Homo sapiens: one gene and its partners. The protein of the gene in region 2 purifies or fractionates together with the protein of the main gene of each other region. This does not show direct contact. Each region holds a gene or a part of one and is shown on either strand. Other genes may lie near its edges.

What was found.
Region 1: the proteins of OR2M7 (region 2) and EIF2AK3 purify together in Homo sapiens (affinity purification with mass spectrometry; one large-scale study listed by BioGRID and IntAct). This does not show direct contact.
Region 3: the proteins of OR2M7 (region 2) and GUCY1B1 purify together in Homo sapiens (affinity purification with mass spectrometry; one large-scale study listed by BioGRID and IntAct). This does not show direct contact.
Region 4: the proteins of OR2M7 (region 2) and MARCHF6 purify together in Homo sapiens (affinity purification with mass spectrometry; one large-scale study listed by BioGRID and IntAct). This does not show direct contact.
Region 5: the proteins of OR2M7 (region 2) and TMEM68 purify together in Homo sapiens (affinity purification with mass spectrometry; one large-scale study listed by BioGRID and IntAct). This does not show direct contact.
Region 6: the proteins of OR2M7 (region 2) and SQLE purify together in Homo sapiens (affinity purification with mass spectrometry; one large-scale study listed by BioGRID and IntAct). This does not show direct contact.

Annotation. Positions count from the first base shown.
Region 1 is NC_000002.12:88,624,665-88,628,600, forward strand, and holds the start of EIF2AK3 (eukaryotic translation initiation factor 2-alpha kinase 3 isoform 1 precursor), read right to left. Parts: upstream 2,801-3,936; 5' UTR 2,611-2,800; coding exon 2,303-2,610; intron 266-2,302; exon of another isoform or gene 82-265; intron 1-81. UniProt on the Homo sapiens protein: Metabolic-stress sensing protein kinase that phosphorylates the alpha subunit of eukaryotic translation initiation factor 2 (EIF2S1/eIF-2-alpha) in response to various stress, such as unfolded protein response (UPR).
Region 2 is NC_000001.11:248,323,130-248,325,801, reverse strand, and holds OR2M7 (olfactory receptor 2M7), read left to right. Parts: upstream 1-1,233; coding exon 1,234-2,172; downstream 2,173-2,672. UniProt on the Homo sapiens protein: Odorant receptor.
Region 3 is NC_000004.12:155,793,521-155,797,020, reverse strand, and holds part of GUCY1B1 (guanylate cyclase soluble subunit beta-1), read right to left. Parts: intron 3,166-3,500; coding exon 2,935-3,165; intron 1,681-2,934; coding exon 1,564-1,680; intron 645-1,563; coding exon 511-644; intron 1-510. UniProt on the Homo sapiens protein: Mediates responses to nitric oxide (NO) by catalyzing the biosynthesis of the signaling molecule cGMP.
Region 4 is NC_000005.10:10,356,695-10,360,194, forward strand, and holds part of MARCHF6 (E3 ubiquitin-protein ligase MARCHF6), read left to right. Parts: intron 1-3,500. UniProt on the Homo sapiens protein: Endoplasmic reticulum membrane-associated E3 ubiquitin ligase that plays a critical role in mitigating endoplasmic reticulum stress, the regulation of cholesterol and lipid homeostasis, and ferroptosis.
Region 5 is NC_000008.11:55,756,379-55,759,878, reverse strand, and holds part of TMEM68 (DGAT1/2-independent enzyme synthesizing storage lipids), read left to right. Parts: intron 1-3,467; coding exon 3,468-3,500. UniProt on the Homo sapiens protein: Catalytic subunit of the alternative triglyceride biosynthesis pathway, which mediates formation of triacylglycerol from diacylglycerol and membrane phospholipids.
Region 6 is NC_000008.11:125,015,505-125,019,004, reverse strand, and holds part of SQLE (squalene monooxygenase), read right to left. Parts: intron 947-3,500; coding exon 804-946; intron 375-803; coding exon 278-374; intron 1-277. UniProt on the Homo sapiens protein: Catalyzes the stereospecific oxidation of squalene to (S)-2,3-epoxysqualene, and is considered to be a rate-limiting enzyme in steroid biosynthesis.

The DNA of each region.
Region 1 (3,936 bases), on a different chromosome or scaffold from region 2:
TCACTCATTTCCACCCGCCTACCTCCCTCTGGATGTCCTGCCTGCACCTCCGAGTCACATGTCCAACACCAAACCCCTTACCTTTTCTTCCCTGCTCCCTTAAACCTCTTTTGTCAACTTCTGGCCACGCAGTCTCAATCTCTGGACAAGGGTACCAAGAAAGGAAGAATGCATTCACTTGCCAGGAACCTAGATTTTGCATCAAATATCTCAACTCTGTCCCCTCTGTCCTATACCACTTTACACTAAACCTCTCATCTGAACTGCTATAACACTCTCCTTTTGGTATTCTTAACTCAAGTTTTCAGTACACACTATTGCTAGAGAAACATTCCTTAGGTGTAATTTTGATCAAGCCTGGCACTCAGGATACTCTACCCAACATTTCTCAAACTTTAACGTGCATGTGAATCACACGGTGATCTTGTTAAAATGCAGATACTCTCATTCAGGGAGTGTGGGGTGGTGCCCCACTCCGGAGTTTTAACATACTCCCAAGTGACAATGATGCTATTAGCATCAGACTATATGCATATACAGTCGGCTCTAACCTATTTTTTCTATCCTCATCTACTTCTCCCTGCCTAGCATACATATGTGCATGTCTATATCGCTTACGTACACACACACACACACACACACACACACACACACACACACACAGACATACACAGAGACAAAATGTTTTCCAAACATAATCTCCGGCCTCTGTGCCTCTTGCTGTTTCCTCAAGTCCAGTGACTTTCCATTACAATTTTACCCATTTTTCAGGAACCAACTCATTCTGCCACAACCTTCTCTTATCTTCTTACCTACCCTCACTCCCATACCTCACCTAGTAGAACACCACAAAAACCTTGGGACATCCCTGACACTGGCACTGTTTCTAGTCTGTAATGTTGTTATAGGTCTTCTCGTTTCATCCGTACTGTTAGACTGCACACTCTCCTGGAAGGCAGGAACTACCTGCCTAACCTCTGCCACCCAGGGCATCCTTGGGCTCTTGTTAACCAGTAAGTACCTGTTGAAGTGGATTTGAATTCTAAGAAAAAGAAAACGTCTCAACTCTACTTCATGTAATTCATTTTGAGCAGGAGCTTCAGAAATTTATGATAAACAAAAACACTCTTCCAGGAAAACTGACTCATTAGCAAACCTAAGAAAACTTTGTTTTATATATATATATTTACAAATGTTTATATATTCAAATGGTGCCTAGAGAATTTTAGTACTTATCCTATTTATAGTAGTCTCCAGATATATAGATCAAAGTTCTAATATTAATTTAAAATTAAATCTAACTTGTTACGATCTAGTAATGACTATAAGTCTAAAATATGTTCCAATCCAGAGCCCAGCCTTCCCTAGTTTAATTTACTTAATGCTCCCTTTAGCACTCCATTTATAAAATGGGACATCACTTTCTCCACGGGTGTGATAAGATTGGCTGTCCCCCAAATTTACTGTTAACATGCCTTACATTGTGTCTAGACTTTGAAAAGTGCTTTAAAACAATCACCTTGAAGTAACATTTTTTGAATGCTGAGAAACTCAAAGAAAACCCTATATTAAATGTTTATACAGTAAACCCCTTATTCAAGAACCTAACCATGGCTCTTAGGTTCAAGAACCAATATTCAAGAATCTGACTATAGCTCTTAAACTTTAGCGTGCAAGAATTATCCGGCGTGCTTGTTAAACACGCAGATGCCAGGCTCTTACCCAGGGAATGTCTCATTCAGTAAAACTGGGGTAGGGCCTAGAAAACTGTAGATTTCACCAGCAACCCCAGGTGATTCGGATGCAGGTGTTCCGCAGATCTCAATTAGACACTGATCTCAATCCTTGTCCGGGGGCACTACAGAGTTGTGTTTGAAAGAAAATGCAGACGTCTTTTGCTAAAGTCCTTTCTCAAAACAGCTGTCACGCCAGCACAGACAGGAGGTGATGTGCGTAAGGAAAAAGAGGGAAAGGTTCCTTGGAAGAGAATCAATGCCCGAAAACAATGAAAGAGGGGAAGTGGCGTTTCTTTGCAACCCTGGAATTCCATTCTCCCGCACCTGCGAGGATGCTGCTCTGACCCGTCGGCCAGCACCAGGCCCTCGGGAGCCGAGCCCAGGCAGGTCGCTGGCCGGGGGATGGGAGGGCGTCGTGGCCCCGCGCTCGTCCCCAGGTCGCCAGCTGCCCTCCGCAGCCGAGGGAAGACGCCCGCCCGGGTCCCGGATCTCCGCCCCCCTACACCGCATCCTCCGCGGCTCGCGCGCGTAAACAAGTTGCCTCCCCCGGGTCGGCAGCCCCTCACCTGCCGCGCGGTCGCAACTCTGTCTCATCGTCTGGTTCCGGACCCCGAGGCTCCTGCTCTCCCGCGGCTGCCGGCAGCGCCTCAGCGTCCTCCACAGTCACCTCGGCCGCAGCCACGGCGCCCGCCGCCGGTACTCGCGTCGCTGAGGTGGGAGCAGCGGCCGCCCCGAGGCCGAACGCCGCCTCCGCCGTCGGCGCTGGGAGGCCACGGGCGCGCCCCGCGGCCACCGTCCTTGCCGCGAGCCCCAGCAGCAGCAGCAGCAGCAGCAGCGCCCGTACCAGCAGCCCCGGGCTGATGGCGCGCTCCATCAGCGTCCCGCCCCGCGCGCAGGCATGGAGGCGCAGCCACTGACGCCTGCCTCTCCCGCCGCTTGGAGCTCCCAAGAAGGCAAGGACGTGCTAGGGACCCTACTGCCGCCCCGACGGCCTGGACAGCCAGCCGTGTTCCCCTGGCCACGTCTCAGCCCGGCCTCTGCCGCTGCCACCTGAGTGACAGCCTATCTCGGACATCGCCCATTGAGCAAACTTTCCGCGCGTTTGCTCTCTCATTGGCTGCGGCCGCTGCCACTCCATGTTCCCAGGCTGGCCTTGTTGGGGAAGGTGGACTTTCCCTGGTGGTCAACATCGCACCTACCAATCAAATCGTAATTTCGTCGTTCGAGGCCCGTCCCTCTTCCGGACGCAATTACCAATGAGAAATGCCCTTCCCCGACGTCTTTTTACCTGATTGGTGCGCTCATCAGTTCCCGGAATACCTTTCCTACAACAGATTGGCCATCGCGGTGGTTGGCCTCGCCCCACAAAGCGAGGCGCTGGAGAAGACTTGAAGATCATTGGTGGAAGTGGATGTCCCTCAAAGGTCTGCGCTAACTGCCTCTTGATTGGTTGGAAGCGGCACTTACTACGTGGCGGATTCTGACTGTGAAGAGGACTGTCCCAAGTGAAGAGTGGGAGGCAAGTGCCTTGTGACCGGGAGGAGGTCGACCTTAAAGGAGCTGGTATTGTAGCTCTTCTAAAGCCTAGTCTACTTAGGAAGGCAAAAGCGAAGCAGCAAGAAGTGGCCACAGAAGCCGTGTGGTCCCTAGAAGTAGAAGGGTAAGGAGGATGCAGGAGATGGTCCTACTTGTGGCCGCAACGGGGCTCAGAAGTCCGCTTGTTAGAGATGGCAGTGACCTGTGACAATCCAGTCTGCCCGACACGCCTCCCGCCTCCTTAGGAACGGGAAGGAGCCCCGGCCCAGTGCACTGACGTAGTTAGCCTAAGATCACGTAGCTGGTTGGTCACAGAATCATGACTTTAATTCATGTCTTCTGACTCTGACCTGGCACGCTTTGTACCTCACCAAAGACAGTGATGAAATTGCAAAAGGGCAGAGTGGAGAAGACTGGAATGTTCAGCCAAGGCATTTGAACTTTTAATGCTGCAAGTCAAGACTTCCTGAAGATTTTTGAGCAGATGAGTGAAGTGATAAGAAAATGCATCTTCAGCAGTGACAGCATCAACGAGGAGGAGACTGGCCGGGAGGCTATTACCCGCATCAAAACCAGTGAACATTAAAAAAAATTTTTTTTTTAGAGAGAGGGTCTTGCTCTTTTGCCCAGGCTGGAGTGCAGTGGCTTGACCATAGTTCTCTAT
Region 2 (2,672 bases):
CATCATCTGATCACACTCACTATGACCTGTATGGACACGGGCTTTCTTTATTCTGGTCACTGTGGTAGCCCCAGTGATCAACACATAGCCAGGCTTCATAAATGTTGTTGAAAGGATGAATCTCATGCTTTTCTTAATTTCTGTTTTTATATCTACTTATTTTCTATAGGATATATTGGATGTATTAATTTCCTACGAATGCCAGTACAGAGAAATCACAAACAGGTTACCTAAAACAATAGAAATTTATTCTCTCATAGTTTTGGAGTCTAGAAATCTGAAATCAAGTTGTCAGCAGGGTTGGACACTTCTGAGGGCTCTAAGAGGATGAATCTGTCCCATTCCTCTCTCCCAGGTTCCTGTTATAACTAACAGTTTTTGGCATTTCTTGATTTGTAGATGCACCACTCCAATCCCTGCCTCCCCTATCACATGGTATCCTCAGTGTCTCAGTCTTCACATGGCCACCCACTTATCAGAACATGAGTCATATTGAATTAGAGAGACCCACTCTGCTCCAACTTGACCTCACCTTAACTAATTATACCCTTTATGTATTTCTAAACAAGCTCACTTGCTATCTTTTGGGGAAGAAACATAATTCAATGCATCACACTGGGCTATAGAAAAAAGAGCATATGTCTTAGATTTGTATAATTGAAAATCTTTTCAGTGAATCCACTTACTGTATAGAAAACTTACTATAAAGTATAGATAAAATACTTTAAACTGTAAAGTAATAGGTAAACATACACATTTTCTTAACTCTGGTAGGAAAAATGCCTACTATCATGTGAATAAAGGCACAAATTTATTGTCCATTTCTAGTATTGTGTTGGTCACATGGTGACTGAACCTGAATTTCTCTATCAATTTACCTGTAACAGGCTTCTGATGTTTTAGGAACTGTTTGCTTTGGAGACATATTCTTTTTGGAAAAACTCCATTGATCATGTAGTAGATATTGTTATTGTAATTTTTCAATGGAGAAAAAGAATGCTTAGAAGAAAAGTTAGGACAAGCTCCATAATTTTATAAGTGAGACACTGCTGAGAGAACATATTTCTTTATGATTCCATAATTCTTAAACTTTGAGTTTTATAATTCTGGCCATCCTGTATTGATCACCAAACTACAGAATTTACCATAATCACATGCTTTATAAGGCACTGGGTAAATGTTTATCAAATTAATGAACTGTTTTTGCGGTGCTAGGTAACAGGCATATTCATCATGGCATGGGAGAATCAGACCTTCAACTCTGACTTCCTCCTCCTGGGAATCTTCAATCATAGCCCCACCCACACCTTCCTCTTCTTTCTGGTCCTGGCCATCTTTTCAGTGGCCTTCATGGGAAACTCCATCATGGTTCTCCTCATCTACCTGGATACCCAGCTCCACACCCCCATGTACTTCCTCCTCAGCCAACTGTCCCTCATGGACCTCATGCTCATCTGCACCACTGTACCCAAGATGGCCTTCAACTACTTGTCTGGCAGCAAGTCCATTTCTATGGCTGGCTGTGCCACACAAATTTTCTTCTATATATCATTGCTTGGCTCCGAATGCTTTCTGTTGGCTGTTATGTCTTATGACCGCTACACTGCCATTTGCCACCCTCTAAGATACACCAATCTCATGAGACCCAAAATTTGTGGACTTATGACTGCCTTCTCCTGGATCCTGGGCTCTACAGATGGAATCATTGATGCTGTAGCGACATTTTCCTTCTCCTACTGTGGGTCTCGGGAAATAGCCCACTTCTGCTGTGACTTCCCTTCCCTACTAATCCTCTCATGCAATGACACATCAATATTTGAAGAGGTTATTTTCATCTGCTGTATAGTAATGCTTGTTTTCCCTGTTGCAATCATCATCACTTCCTATGCTCGAGTTATTCTGGCTGTCATTCACATGGGATCTGGAGAGGGACGTCGCAAAGCTTTTACTACTTGTTCCTCTCACCTCATGGTGGTGGGAATGTACTATGGAGCAGGTTTGTTCATGTGCATTCAGCCCACATCTCATCATTCTCCTATGCAGGACAAGATGGTGTCTGTATTCTACACCATCGTCACTCCCATGCTGAATCCTCTCATTTATAGCCTCCGCAACAAGGAAGTGACCAGAGCATTAATGAAAATCTTAGGAAAGGGCAAGTCTGGAGATTGAGTTACCTCATAAATTTCATGTTTTGCTGTCTGCTAACGTCTTCTTTTTATTGTCTCTCTTTTTCTATTAAGTCCTAAAAATATCACTAATTGTGTGCATTGCTCAACATATTGATGGGTACCAGTATAATTTATTTCAGATAAACTATTTTAGATTTTTTAATATTCAATTCAGTTATGACTACAATATAAGGCATTTTCAATAAAGACATTCCATTTTTATTTTTAAATTTCATTATCATTTTGGGAAACACATAGTGTTTGGTTACATTAATAAGTTCTTTAATGGTGATTTCTGAGATTTTAGTGCAGCGATCAACCAAGCAGTGTTCGCTGTACCTAATGTGTAGTCTTTTAGCCCTCTCCAGTCCCCAACATTTCTTCCAAGTCCCCAAGTCCAGTGTATCATTTTTATGCCTTGGTGTTTCATAGCTTAGCTGGCACATATGAGTGAGAATATACGATGTTTGGATTTCCATGCCTGTGTGACTTCACTTTGTA
Region 3 (3,500 bases), on a different chromosome or scaffold from region 2:
AATTGAATAATATATTTGGAACAGTGTATTTGGATTAGAGTAGGTAAATATTTTTAATTTAAAATAGTTCAAACCCAGAAAGAGACCTTTTAGATTTTTTGCTAACATACTATAGAAAAGATAATTTTTGATGTCAAATATACCAATGTATTTATTATGCCATCCTATTAGCTGCTTTAAAAAATCACTTTTCTACATAATGCCTATTTTGAAGGTCCAAAACTATAGAATTAGCTTAATGCAGATTATTTGTCCCATGGCGTAATGGCATAAACACTCCACAAATGTATTAAGACATGGCAAATAACATAGAGTATGTGATTTCTTCTGAGTTTATTAGCAAATATTAAATAAGATTATCCTTGTTATAAAGTAATACACAACAAGGGCTGTAAAATCTAATTACACCTCAGAGAATATGTAAATTTAATGGAATAAAATATTGTGGCATTCCTTTGTTAGCTAAAGATAGGTACTGATAGCCACTATAATTAATCTAAAAATGATTACCTTGGTGAACATAGAAAAAGTATGCTATCTGCTTCAGGTAAGTAGATCATTTGACCCTTGAGACGTAAGCAGCTGATCTCAGTCCCAGTCAGTTCATCCTCACATTCTAATTTCTCCACATCCAACAATCCTTCCTTGAAAAGGCAAGATACAACCATTAATGAATGCCTTTCTCCCTACCTAAGAATTCAGCAACAAGGACACGCATATCTCATTTCCCACCAAACCACAAAGCAGAATAAGTGCATCATTAGAACAGGAGAGGGCCTTCTGTCAGAGTTCTGCCTGTAATAAGCCTAGTGGCTGCCTTGCAACACTGCAGAAAAGTGACTGTCCCGTCTGAATTCAGGACAGTAACTGTGCTACTCTTCACATAATTATTTCAAGCTTTTGTGAATCTTTTTTATCCCCCTGATTTTCCGGTATGGTTCCAACATACATTACCAGACTCTCAAAGAATAAGCCAAGCCTCCCCATTCTCCCACCCTGTATTCATAGAGCAGCTGCAAACAGTCAGTTCCAAATACAGAAAGGATTCAATGGGTACTCTAGGAAAATGACTTTTGCTGTATCTATCCCAAGAACAGAAACCGTGAGATCCCAGCACTATCTAAATTATCAACTGTGTGAATATTTCATCACTTTTATTCACCCACAAAAACGCTACTAAGAACAATAGACAATTTAAGAAAGAATAAATAAGTGGTTTTGAGTGAAGTTCCAAAAAAAAAAATCCTTTTTAGTTCTGATTTCTAAAATAAGGCACTGTAGCTGTACAGGGAGTAAAAGATGTTGGTTTTTTGATGTGAAACAAGGCCGTCTCAGAAAGACAGTCTCTAAAATTTACCTCTGTTAATTTTAATCAGTTGATAGAGTTCCACTGCTCCTCAGGCAAACCAAAAATCAATGTTATTGCCTTTTAAATAGATCTTCCTTTGAGGTCTGGGTTTTATCTCTCTATACTTTCTCAGAGAATGTGATAATTTTCCCCCCTGAATACTTCTAATTTGTGACATACCTTTCTCACATTTAATGAAATAATATCTTGATTACCTTGCTTCTCAATACAAAAACAGTATTGATGTGAGAAAGGATCCCATGGAAACTAATATCAATATGAGGACGAACCAGCGAGAAGACAGACAGAAGGCTGCAATTCCCAGGCTGGAGCTAAAATATAGATAGAGAGCAAAGAGTATCACATCAGTTAAAATAGTTTTTATACTTTGATATTAATCGCTTGATTAAATCAGCTCAGTTATATTTAAAACTAGAAAATTATAATTATTATAATTCAAGGGAAACTTAGCTGAACTATCAACTCAAATCTCAATCTATACAACTCAGTGATTAAATGGACATTAAATAGTTACAAGAACATGAAATCTGATATGGATTCAGATGACTAATATTCAAATGTAAGCTAGCATAAATTTACAATGCATTTTCAGAAGGAGAAAAAATGAAAATTTATCTTTTAAAATGTACAGTGTTATGTTAAATGTGTATGGCTTGAAATGAAATTAAAATACCAAAAACATGAGCAAACCCTCTCTTAATATTTATCTAGAGGGCTAAAAGTGAAAACAATAGGTAACACTGATTGATTGCTTACAATGAACTAAGTATTTTTCATATGCTTTCTATTCTCATGCCAGAACAAAGAGAAACAGGCTGAGAGAAGTGAAGTAATAAGTTCAAGGTCATACAGTAAGGGACAGGTAGAGTCAATACCAGAGCCAGGACAGCACACTACTCTGCTTCCATTTCACCTGATCCAACTGGGCTAATCCTGAATTTTCAAGTCTCTTTAATTACAAGCAAAAAGTATCTCTAAACGTATGCCATATACAACTCCAAAAGTTAGTATTTAAGAAAAAAAGAGTAAGCATAAAGGATTTTACCAATGGATCTGTCATAGAAGTCAACAGCAGTTTCTCATCATCATCCCAACTGCTTCCTTTGATGCTTTTTCTACTGAATCCATCATCATCTCTATCATTTTGTGTTTTAGTTCTTTTTAAAATCCCCCCTTTTCCCTTAACACCATCAATAGTTGATTTTTAAAGCTATTTACAGATGGTAGATATCCAATGAATATTTATTCAGTGAATAAATAAACATGTGAAAGGTGACTGTTACTAAAAAGTTACCCATTTTTTTTCACTGTAACAAGTATACTATTCTTACATAACATTCCTACTGTTTCTGTATGTGATTATTATAAAAAAATAGTTGTCCTAGGGAAAGTTGTGGTATGCTCAAATACACTTAGTTCACAATTAAACAATTTGTGTAACTTACAATAAACTGCATATTACCTAATACATAGTCAGAGGGTTAAATGAATGGATGGCTGCCTGTAACAATAGTATTTCTATGGGCTTTTGTCTCAGGCCCCAAGGAAGTATGCTGTCATTTTACCTGGGGGAGAACTCTGTATATAGCATTGCCACACTGAGTGACCACTAGGTCCCGGTCAAATATTATATGAAAAGGAAAAGCTTTGCAGAATGTATATGGGCTGATGCGTGATTCCTGGGTACCATTTTCTTCAAATCTGTCAAGATCTTCATAAAAATCCTCTTCTTTTGACTCTTTTTCTTCAATTAAAAATTGAGTATGATCACATTCTTCATTTCTTTGCTGAATAACCTGGATATCAAAGGGGGAAATGGCATGAATTGTCTTCATTTCAGTTTAATAAAAATACCTAAATATAAAAAATGAGTTATGAATACTGCATTTAGAAGATTAATTACAAAAATTCAAAACATATATGCAAATACTCCATATGTCTAAAATAGGAAAATATTTCTGGACTTTGATCTATAAAATTTGAAGATTGAATAATCATTGTAAAATTACAAATCTGGTATCAGTTCCCCAGTATCCTATATGGTCTCTTTGGTAGAATTAGAAAAAAAAAGCACTTGTGGGCTCTGCCTTCTTAGCCAAGCACACTTGTATAGTGAACAACCTGAAAGCCA
Region 4 (3,500 bases), on a different chromosome or scaffold from region 2:
CGGTTCTCTGTCCTTTAAAAATATATTTTAATATTCTGAGCAAAGAGATTAAGAATGTTACAAACACATCAACCGTGCGTATAGTAAGTCTTCCCTTCCTTTTAAAAATAGCACATTGCTTGCCTCTGATGGTACCATATATGATAGTCTGATGCTCAGAATGTTATGCATTTGTAGTAATACTTAGTTCCGACATGGCTGTTTCATACTAATTGTTTGCTAGATTTTAAAGATCTCTAAAGTTTCTTCAGTATTAAATTAATTTTTGTAAAATCAACAGGTTTATAATCCATTCTCATAATACAGGGATGGATAAATCATTCTTACTGTGTATATGTTATTTGTATGAGTGCAGATGTGTTATGTCAACTGCTATCCATCCTGACATTTTTAAACTTCAGAGCTATAGGAGACCTTAGACATTTGCCCTCCTCATTTTATGGGTTAGGAGTCCGATCCTGTAATGCACTGAGATTTCTCAGTTTCAGAGAAAAGTCTATCCTTTGGTCAAGGATATACTTTTTTTTTTTTTTTTTTAAAGGAAAAGCAGTACAATATTGGAATAGATGTTGCAAGTGTTGATGTGCAGTTCTCAAAGATAATATTAAACATTTTGTCATAGAATGCCCACATTTCGGCTCAGTGATATAAAGCTGAGGTTTTTTTTTTTTTCTTTTCCATTTTGCTAAATTACTGCTTGTATTAGCACAACATAATACAAAGTCTTAGTAATTTTATTACAGAATACCAAAGCAGCTGTTCTTTATGCTTTACGGAACATATTCATTCGAAAAGTGTGAAGCTAAAGAGTATTATGGTTGATCATGTTCTATATCACTATGGCAAAAATTTGAGGTAACTTAAATTTGGAAGAAATGAGTTAAAAGGATAGAAAGTTGTCAGAATCAGACAGCTAGTTCCTCTCTTTCTAGACCCACACAGTCTTCTTTGTTTCCAGAGATGTCTGCTGCATGTTTCTTACCACGCATTACCTTTCACTGTTTTGGCATGCTTGTGACCAAGTGTACATGCATTTATTCGTTAAATGTTTACTGAGGACCTGTTATGAGCCAGGCACTATTCTATGCATTTGGGCTAGGCAAGGAACAATATAGAGAAAATCCTTTCTTTCATAGAGCTTACATTATAGTTATTAGCTTAAGACAAAATAAACATGTAAATTATATGGCATAACTAGAAGGTTATAAACGCTGTGGAGAACAGTGAATTGGGAGGGAATAAGAAGTGCCAGGATATGAGGGCATGGGTTGCTTTTTTTTTTTTTTTTTTTGAGACGGAGTCTTGCTCTGTCACCCAGGCTGGAGTGCAGTGGCGCGATCTTGGCTCACTAGGGGTCGCAGTTTTAAATATAGCAGTAAAGGAAGGCCTCACTGAGAAGGAGCAAAGGAGAAGGAGTTAGCCATGCAGATACTCTGGGCAGAGCATTCCAGGCAGAGGGAACATAGCCTATGTGAAGTGTCTAAGATGGGAGCATGCCTAGAGTGTTCAATAAATCACCAGGAGAGCAGTGTAGCTGTAACGGAGTAAAAGAGTTGGAGAAGAGTAAGTATAATATGAGGTCAGAAAGATATGGAGCCAATGGGGAGAGAGCATGTAGGACTTCATTGACTTTTATAGTGAGATAGGGAGCTATGGGAGGGTTTTGAGCTGACGTGAGACATAAATTGTCTTGATATGCAGCCAGCTTTCTGTATTTGTGGGTTTCGCATCTGTGGATTCATCCAATGTCAGATGGAAAATACTTGGAAAAAAATAGATGATTACCTCTGTACTGAACATGTACAGCCTTTTTTTCTTGTCATTATTCCTCAAACAATACAGTATGATGACTACATAACATTTATGTTATAATTATTCTAAGTAATCTAGAGATAATTTAAAGTACAGTTGACTCTTGAACAACATGGGTTTTTGAACTACATGGGTCCACTTACACATGGATTTTTTTCTTCAATAAATATATTGAAAAAAATTTTGGAGATTTGCAGCAATTTGAAAAAACTTGCAGATGAACTGTGTAGTCTAGAAATAGTGAGAAAGTTAAAAAGTTATGTCATTAATGCATAAAATATATGTAGATACTAGTCTTTTACTCACTATCATAAAATATATACAAATCTGTCATGAAATGTTAAAATTTATCAAAACTTACACACACAAACATGTAATGGAGACTGTACATGGCACCATTCACAGTTGAGAGATGTAAAGAAACTTAAAGATACAGTATTAAATCATAACTGCATGAAATTAACCGTAGTGCATACTGTGCTACTGTAATAATTTTGTGGCCACCTTCCGTTGCTGTTGTTGTGAGCTCAAGTGTTGCTGTTGTTGGAGCTCATCTCTCCAGTAAATTGTATATGGTAAAAAGTATCTCTCTGGATTCTCTTGTATTTTTCATTGCATTTAGTGCAGTACCCTAAACTTTGAATAACATGATGGGATCCATATGAGGTGCCACTAAGTGATGCTGGAAGTGCTCCAGGAAGCTGAAAAAAGGCATGACATTATGAAGAAAAAGTCGAATTGCTTCATATGTGCCATAGATTGAGGTTTGTAGCTGTGGTTGCTGGCCATTTCAGAATGATTTATCTTGTAAACAGACAGGTATCAATAAATATGGTACAGTGCTGTAAATGTAATTTCCTTCTGATTTTCTTAATTTTTTTCTCTAGCTTTATTGTAAAAATAAAGTATATAATATAGAATACAGTATATAATATTACAATACATATTGTAAGAATGCAGCATATAATACAGTACGCAATACATATAATACAGTTTATGCATTCATGGCATAATTTTATTTTTTTTGCTCCTTCTAAGCTACACAGTTCATCTTTTTTTAAATTGTTGTGAATTTCCAAAAAATTCTCCAATATATTTATTGAAGAAAGAAATCCGCGTATAAGTGGACCCATGTAGTTCAAACTGTGATGTTCACAGATCTGTACTTTAAATAATCTCCTGAGTACTCATAATACCTAGTATAATGTAATACAAAGGCTGGGTGCGGTGGCTCACGCCTGTAATCCCAGCACTTTCGGAGGCGGTGGCAGGCAGATCACCTGAGGTCAGGAGTTCGAGACCAGCCTGGACAACATGGCGAAACCCTGTCTCTACTAAAAATAGAAAAAATTAGCTGGATGTGGTGGCGGGTGCCTGTAATCCCAGCTCCTTGGGAGGCTGAGACAGGAGAATGGCGTGAACGTGGGAGGCGGAGCTTGCAGTCAGCCGAGATCGCGCCACTGCACTCCAGCCTGGGCAACAGAGCAAGACTCCGTCTCAAAAAAAAAGTAGTACAATATGTGTATTAATCTACTGTTTATGTTGTATTATGTTATGGGAAGGCTTCTGGTCACCAGTAGGCTGTTAGTAGTTTTCCATTAGTAGTTTTTCGGGAGTCAAAAGTTGTATGTGTGTGTGTTTTTTTTTTTTTTTTTTTTTTGAGACAGAGTTTTGCTCTTTTTGCCCAG
Region 5 (3,500 bases), on a different chromosome or scaffold from region 2:
AGGACAGAGATTTTCTTGTAGTCTAGTTCAAATCTGTGATTAAAGTTTTTCCCCCACATGTAATAAGATTGTACAAAATCATGTTTGTTTTTTTCATGAATAGAATGAGGAAATTTCTAAAGAATTGTTTAAATACATAAAAATGAAGTCTTATGTTTGTGAATGAACTTAAAGTTTACAGCATTATGATATCTGTGTATATATAACAGTGTAAATGGTATTTTATTTTACATTCAGTCACTAATAATTTTTCCTGTTTTAAAAATATGTATTTTTTAGTTTTATTTATATTTATTTATTTATTTTTGAGACAGAGTCTCACTCTTGTGTCCCAGGCTGGAGTGCAGTGGTGTGAGCTCAGTTCACTGCAACCTCCGCCTCCCAAGTTCGAGCGATTCTCCTGCCTGAGCCGCCCGAGTAGCTGGGACTATAGGCACATGCCACCACACCTGGCTAATTTTTGTATTTTTAGTAGAGATGGGGTTTCACCATGTTGGCCAGGCTGGTCTTGAACTCCTGACCTCAGGTGATCCTCCCGCCTCACCCTCCCAAAGTGCTGGTATTATAGGCACGAGCCACTGTGCCCGGACTGTATTTACTTAATTTTTTTTTTTTTTTTTTGTAGAGACAGGGATTTCACTGATTTGCCCAGGCTGATCTTAAACTCCTAGCCTCAAGCAATCCTCCTGCCTTGGCCTCCCAAAGAACTGGCATTACAGGCTTGAGCCATCACACCTGGCCTACTTTTTTTGCTTTTATTGATGAATTATTTTATGACTCATTTTTAAATTTACTGTAGGTCATGTTATCTCAGGGAAGTTGTAACTTACTTGATGGCTTCTGCAAATAAGGATGTTCTCATACTTAACCTCAGTAAACCCATTAAAATTGGAAAATTAACATTGTTATGTTACTAATATCAAATCTTTAGAGCTCATTTAAGTTTACAGCCTTTCTATTTGACTCTATTTTTTTATAGTTTCCATCTTTCTGCTGAAATTCCTAATCTGATTGTGCATGTATCCACCTTTTCCACTAGATCCTTTGCGTTTATTTATTTATTTTTATTTTTAGAGTCAGGGTCTCGCACTGTCACCCAGCCTGGAGTGCAGTGGCACGATCATAGCTCACTACAGCTTTCAACTTCTGGGCTCAAGCAATCATCCCACCTCAGCCTCCCAAGTAACTGAGACTACAGGCACATGCCACCATGCCCAATTAATTTTTTTACATTTTTGCAGAGGTGGGTCTTGCCATGTTGCCCAGGCTGATCTCTAACTCTTGGGCTCAAAAGTCCTACCATCTCAGTCTCCCAAAGTGTTGGGATTACAGGCGTGAGCCACTGCATTCCCCTTTAACTTAATCATAGTTATTTTATAGTTTCCATCTGATAGTTTCAACATTTGGGTGTGTTAATTGTTTTAGCTCTTGACAGTGGGTTTTTTTCTTGCTATTTTATGTCATATTTTTTATTGAATTCTGGCCATTGTTTGTAAAAGAATGACAACTGAGGTAAATAGTATTTATGACTGAGAATTGGGCTCATAAATAGGATTTATGACTAAGAATCTGTCAGGCCATTGGTGGTCGGTTGGAGGTGGATTCAATCTACTGAGTGAACTGGATTTGGCTTTTATTGCTGCGCTACAGCTACCTTCAGTTCAGCACAGACTTCAGACTCCTACTGTTATCTTGTGCATAGTGTAGGGCCTGAAGTAGAGGGATTTTTTGGTTGTTTCTGCTCCACCTTCAGTCCTGTATGCCTTTGCCACAGGAAGAGTCTCTTCACGCCCCTCCTGCGACCCCAGGAAAAGGTCGCCTTTGCTTATAACTCCACATGGGGGTACTTGGGGACTCCTCACACCCCTTGTTCATGCCCCTGCCCTCATTCCCCCTGGTGCTGGGGTATAGCACTCCTCAGTTTTCAGGTTTAGCTAAAATCTTATGGGGCTCTGTATTCCTGGGGCTTAGGGGTGAGGCTTTCTGTGTTCCTTTCCCTTTTCCCTGTGTTGGGGGTTTTGTGATGGAAGCAAATTTGCTGCCACTGCCCCCGTGGTAGATATCTGCTTTATGTCACTTAAGGACTCTGGGCCCCTTAGACTTTCCTGCCACCCACCCCCGCTGCCCAGTGGTAGATATTTTGCTTCTTCCCCTTCTCTAGAATAGTGGACTTTTGCCTGACACTGGGCTGGTGAGGGTGGAGGAGTGTGTGGGGCAGGGGAGTGGAGTTCTGCCCCTCCCAGCATTACATGCCTTTTGCATATACCCTTTTCTTAGAGGGAGTGAAAGGGTTTCCTGCCCCTTTCCCAGCGCCTGACAGGTTTTCTTCTATGAGATAAACTTCCAGGAAGTGAGTGGGGTTTTGTTCCCTGTACCATTAGCAGGGGCTCTCTTTACTCTCCAGCTTCACCCCTAATCTTTCTTGTGAGCACACACTGAGGTCTGTGGAGAAGAGTTAGAGAGTGACTATCTGGGGCTTCCAGAGATTCTACATTCAATACTAGCCTACCGTGGGACTTTAAGTATTTTGTAATATGTCACTTCTTCTTACCCTCTTTTATGGCATCTGCCTCTTCCTCCCATTCTCAGTTTTTGTCTTTCCTTAGAGGGGTTTATCACCCTTTGAAGTTCAGTTCGCCTGGTTGCCTTGTGACCTCTGTTCTCTGACATGCTTAAGAAAAAAAGATTTGTACTTCAGGCTTTTTCTCATCAGTAGGGTGGGAGTGATGTTCCCTTGTGGCTACAGAGTTTCTCTTACTAGTAATACTGTACAGTATTTTTAATGTTTTCAACCCCCTCCTCTAACAGTGAAACCTGGCTCCCGTTATTCTTACTATGTTGACTCATTTGATCAGTCCCCCTGTGTGTAACCCATCTCCCATCATTGCTGCCTTCCCCTACAACTCATGGATGCCCTGTCCCTGCTTGTGCCAGGCCACCACTCTGTACAGTGCCCTGTCCAGCTGCTCAGGCTGTGATGCCCTACACCAGGCCACCTGTCTCGGGCTCTGGCCCCTCCTGCCAGGCTGCTTGCTGGTTGTGGATGCCCCCATTTCACTCAGGCTCTGACTCCCAAGCTTCCGTGACCCTTGCCTCCTCTCTTCCCCCTCAGCAGCCCCCCAACCTGTGATAGGCTCTCTTCTGTGCAGTGCCCTCGTGACTCTGCTCTGGTTCTGACTCCCCACTCCGCACCACCTGTGTGAGTGCCTTCCTTAGTGTCTGGCGCCAACACTCCAGGCTACCTCTCCACACAGGTTGTCTGCTTCACTGTGGCCCACCTAATGGCTGTAGGACTGATTTGTTCAAGAAAGAAAGAGAAGAGGAAAGAGAGGGAAGAAGGGGGAAAGGGGAAGAGAACCAGGAAGACTAGTGTACTTTTGTGAGAAAAGACTGAGCTACCAACCATCCTTTACTGTAAACGAATTAATGAATATATTTTAAGTATTTGCATTTTGTCATTCAAACAGGTTATGAAGTTCATGGAATGGAAAAAATACCAG
Region 6 (3,500 bases), on a different chromosome or scaffold from region 2:
GACAAGCATGATCTAGTCTGCACCAGAGGAATTCAAAATAATGAATATGTTACTGAGGCATTGCTATTAATGTTGTCTAAGGAAATTCCACTACCTTCCAAACTAAAACTAAAACTACAACTATTGCTCAAAATGGAATTTTAAAAAACTACCAACTTGGGAGTTAGCAAACTCAGGTAACATTTTTATTTCTGGACAAATCACTAACTTGTTTATTCCTTTCCTACGCTAAAAATCTGCAATTGAGTAATATTCACTAAAAAGTGTCTACACTTACCATCTGTGGCAGAAAATAATTCATAAAGAGCCTGAGCAAGGATATTCACGACAAAGGAATGAGATGTTTTTCTTGCCCAGTAAAATGATTTTTTGGCCTAAAAAAGAAATAGCTCATTTATTATATGGTAAGGATAAAAAAGCACAAACTGATGTTTATAATCCCCTCAAACTGATACTTATCCTTCTAAGGACTATCTGCAAGTAATATTGCCTTATGTTTATCATTTACAAAAAAAATAAAAAATCACCTTCAGAGCAATGGGTTATATGACACTGAAGCTAAATTTACAACCACTATGAGCTAAGTGGCCCATAGCAATCAAGTGTTACATAATATTCAAATTTAGAAATTCTCTAAGATTCACAGGTTGCAAGTCAGGTTCTTTAAGCCTAAGCAAGATGCCTAAGAGCTATTATAAAGCATCAGGTTCCTTAGTACAGATCTCCCCATCAGAGCCCCACTGCTCTTAACCCCCAGAAATAAATCCATTTTGAGACATTTTTGTCAAAATAATTGATCTTACCTCGAAAATAGCTGCATCATCATAAAGGTCAGGGATACCCTTTAGCAGTTTTCTCCATAGTTTTATATCTTTAAAAGCAACAGTCATTCCTCCACCAGTAAGTGGATGCCTCATATTATATGCGTCTCCCAAAAGAAGAACACCTATGAAGAGAGGTAATGAAGATTTTATTTTAGAGCATCCCTTGAGACAAAACAAAAAGGATAACTCAATGTATAAAGATTACTGATGTAAGCTAATAATAAGAAAAATGTGAAAATACATGAAAACAAATCATGATTAAAATTTGCTGAGGCAAAAATTCAAGAGTTGTTTGAATCAATGTTGGGTACCTAATAGGTGGCCAGGCACTGGGGATATGGTAATAACAAGAGTGTGGCCTCTGCCCTCATGAAGCTCATATACAAACCTAATGACAAGTCCAATAATGTCAATACATTTGTAAGGCCTCCTTAAAATATGAAGAAAATAAAAAGAATCTACAGGTATCCAGGTATACAAAGCAAGTCCTCTGGCGATCATCCCCCTCCCACACAGGAAAGCACCTTCATAAGAACCAAAAGTCAGCCTGGGTACCAGCTTGGCCAGTGAGACAGAGCACCAAGTGGGTTCCTGGGGTCCCTGATTCTAGGTCTTGGCACCTGGACAGCATTTTTGGATCCGTCCTGGGTGAGAGGGGAGCCCATTGTACTGAAGGGAGAGACCCAGGTCTGGCAGCATTCACCACCAGCTGACTGAAGAGCCCTGGAGCCTTGAGTGAACACCAGCAGCAGCCAGGCAGTACTCACTGCAGGCCTGGAGCACTGGTGGCCATGGGGAGAGGCTCCTTCTGCTTGAGGAAAGGAGAGGGAAGAGTGGGAAGGAATATGTCTTAAGGTTTGGGTGCCAGCTCAGCTGCAGTAGAATAGAGCACCAAGTAGATTCCTAAGTTTCCCAACTCCAGGCCCTGGCTCCCAGACAGCATTTCTGGACCAGTCCTGGGCCCCCAGGAGCTCACTGCCCTCAAGGGAAGGGCACAAGCCTGGCTGGATTTGTGCTGACTGTAGAGCTCTTGAGTCTTGAGGGAACATCAGCGGTGACCAGGCAGTCATCACCACAAGCCTTTCACCAATACCCAGTGCTGTACTGGCTTCAGGTCTGACTCAGCACACGCCAGTCATGGTGGCCACAGGCATACCTGTGTCACCCGTCCCCCACAGCTCCAGGCAGCTCAACAAAGAAGGACAGACTCTGTTTGGGGGAAAGTAAGGGAAGAGAACCAAGAGTTCTTTTCCTGATAATCCAGGGAATTCTCCCAGATATTACCCAAGACCACCAAGGCGGTACCTCTACAAGTCTGCAAGGGTCACAATGTTACTGGACTTGGGGTGCCCCTTAATACAGATACGGCTGCTATGACCAAAGACTTAGATCACAACACTCACTTCCCTTTGAATACTTCAAAAGCGTTCCCAAGAAAGATGGGTACAAACAAGCCCAGACTCCGAAGACCACAATAAATACCTAACTCATCAATGCCCAGACATTGGTGAACATCCACAGTCATCAAAACCATCCAGGAAAACATGAACTCACTAAATTAACAATAATAAATAAGGCACCAGTGACCAATCCCAGAGTAACAGAGATGTGAGCTTTCAGAGAATTCAAAATAGCTGTTTTGGAGAAGCTCAACAAAATTCAAGACAACACAGAGAAGGAACTCAGAATGCTATCAGGTAAGTTTAACAAAACAACTGAAATAATTTAAAAGAATCAAGCAGAAATTCTGGAGATAAAAAATTCAATTAACTTACTGAAGAACATGGCAGAATCTCAACAGTAGAACTGATCAAGCAGAAGAAAGAATTAGTAAGCTTGAAAACAGGCTATTTGAAAATACACAGAGGAGACAAAAGAAAAAAGAATAATCAAGAATGAGGCACACCTACAAGATCTAGAAAATAATTTCAAAAGAGCAAATCTAAGTTCTTGGCCTTTAAAAGGAGATAGAAAGATGAGGGTAGAAAGTTTATTTGAAGAAAAAATAACAGAGAACTTCCCAAATCTAGAGAAAGATATCAATATTCAAGCACAAGAAAGCTACAGAACACCAAGCAAGGATTGGTGATTGATTTAATCCAAACAAGACTAGTTCAAGCCATTTAATAATCAAACTCCCAAAGGTCAAGGATATAGAAAAGATCCTAAGAGCAACAAGAGAAAGGAAACAACAAACAATGGAGCTCTAGTATGTCTGGCAGTAGACTTAGTGGAAATCTTACAGGCCAGGAGAGAGGGGCAAGACACACTGAAAGTGCTGAAGGAAAAGAACTTTTATGCTACAATAGTATATCCAGTGAAAATATCCTTCAAACATGAAGGAGAAATAAAGACTTTCCCAGACAAACAAAAGCCGAGGGACTTCATCAACACCAAACTTTCCCACAAGAAATGCCGAAGTGAGTTCTTCAATCTAAAAGAAAAGGACCTTAACGAGCAGTAAGCAATTACATGAAGGTACAAAACTCACAAAAGTTAAAAAGCAAGGAGGATAAAGTGTAGAGTTTTTATTAGTTTTCTCTGCTCGTTTGTGGAATCAGTTGTCATCAGTTTAAAATAATCGGTTATAAGATATGACCTGCAAGCTTCCTGGTAATTTCAAATCAAAAGCCTACAAGAGGTAGGCAAAAAAATTAAAAGCAAGAAATTAAAACA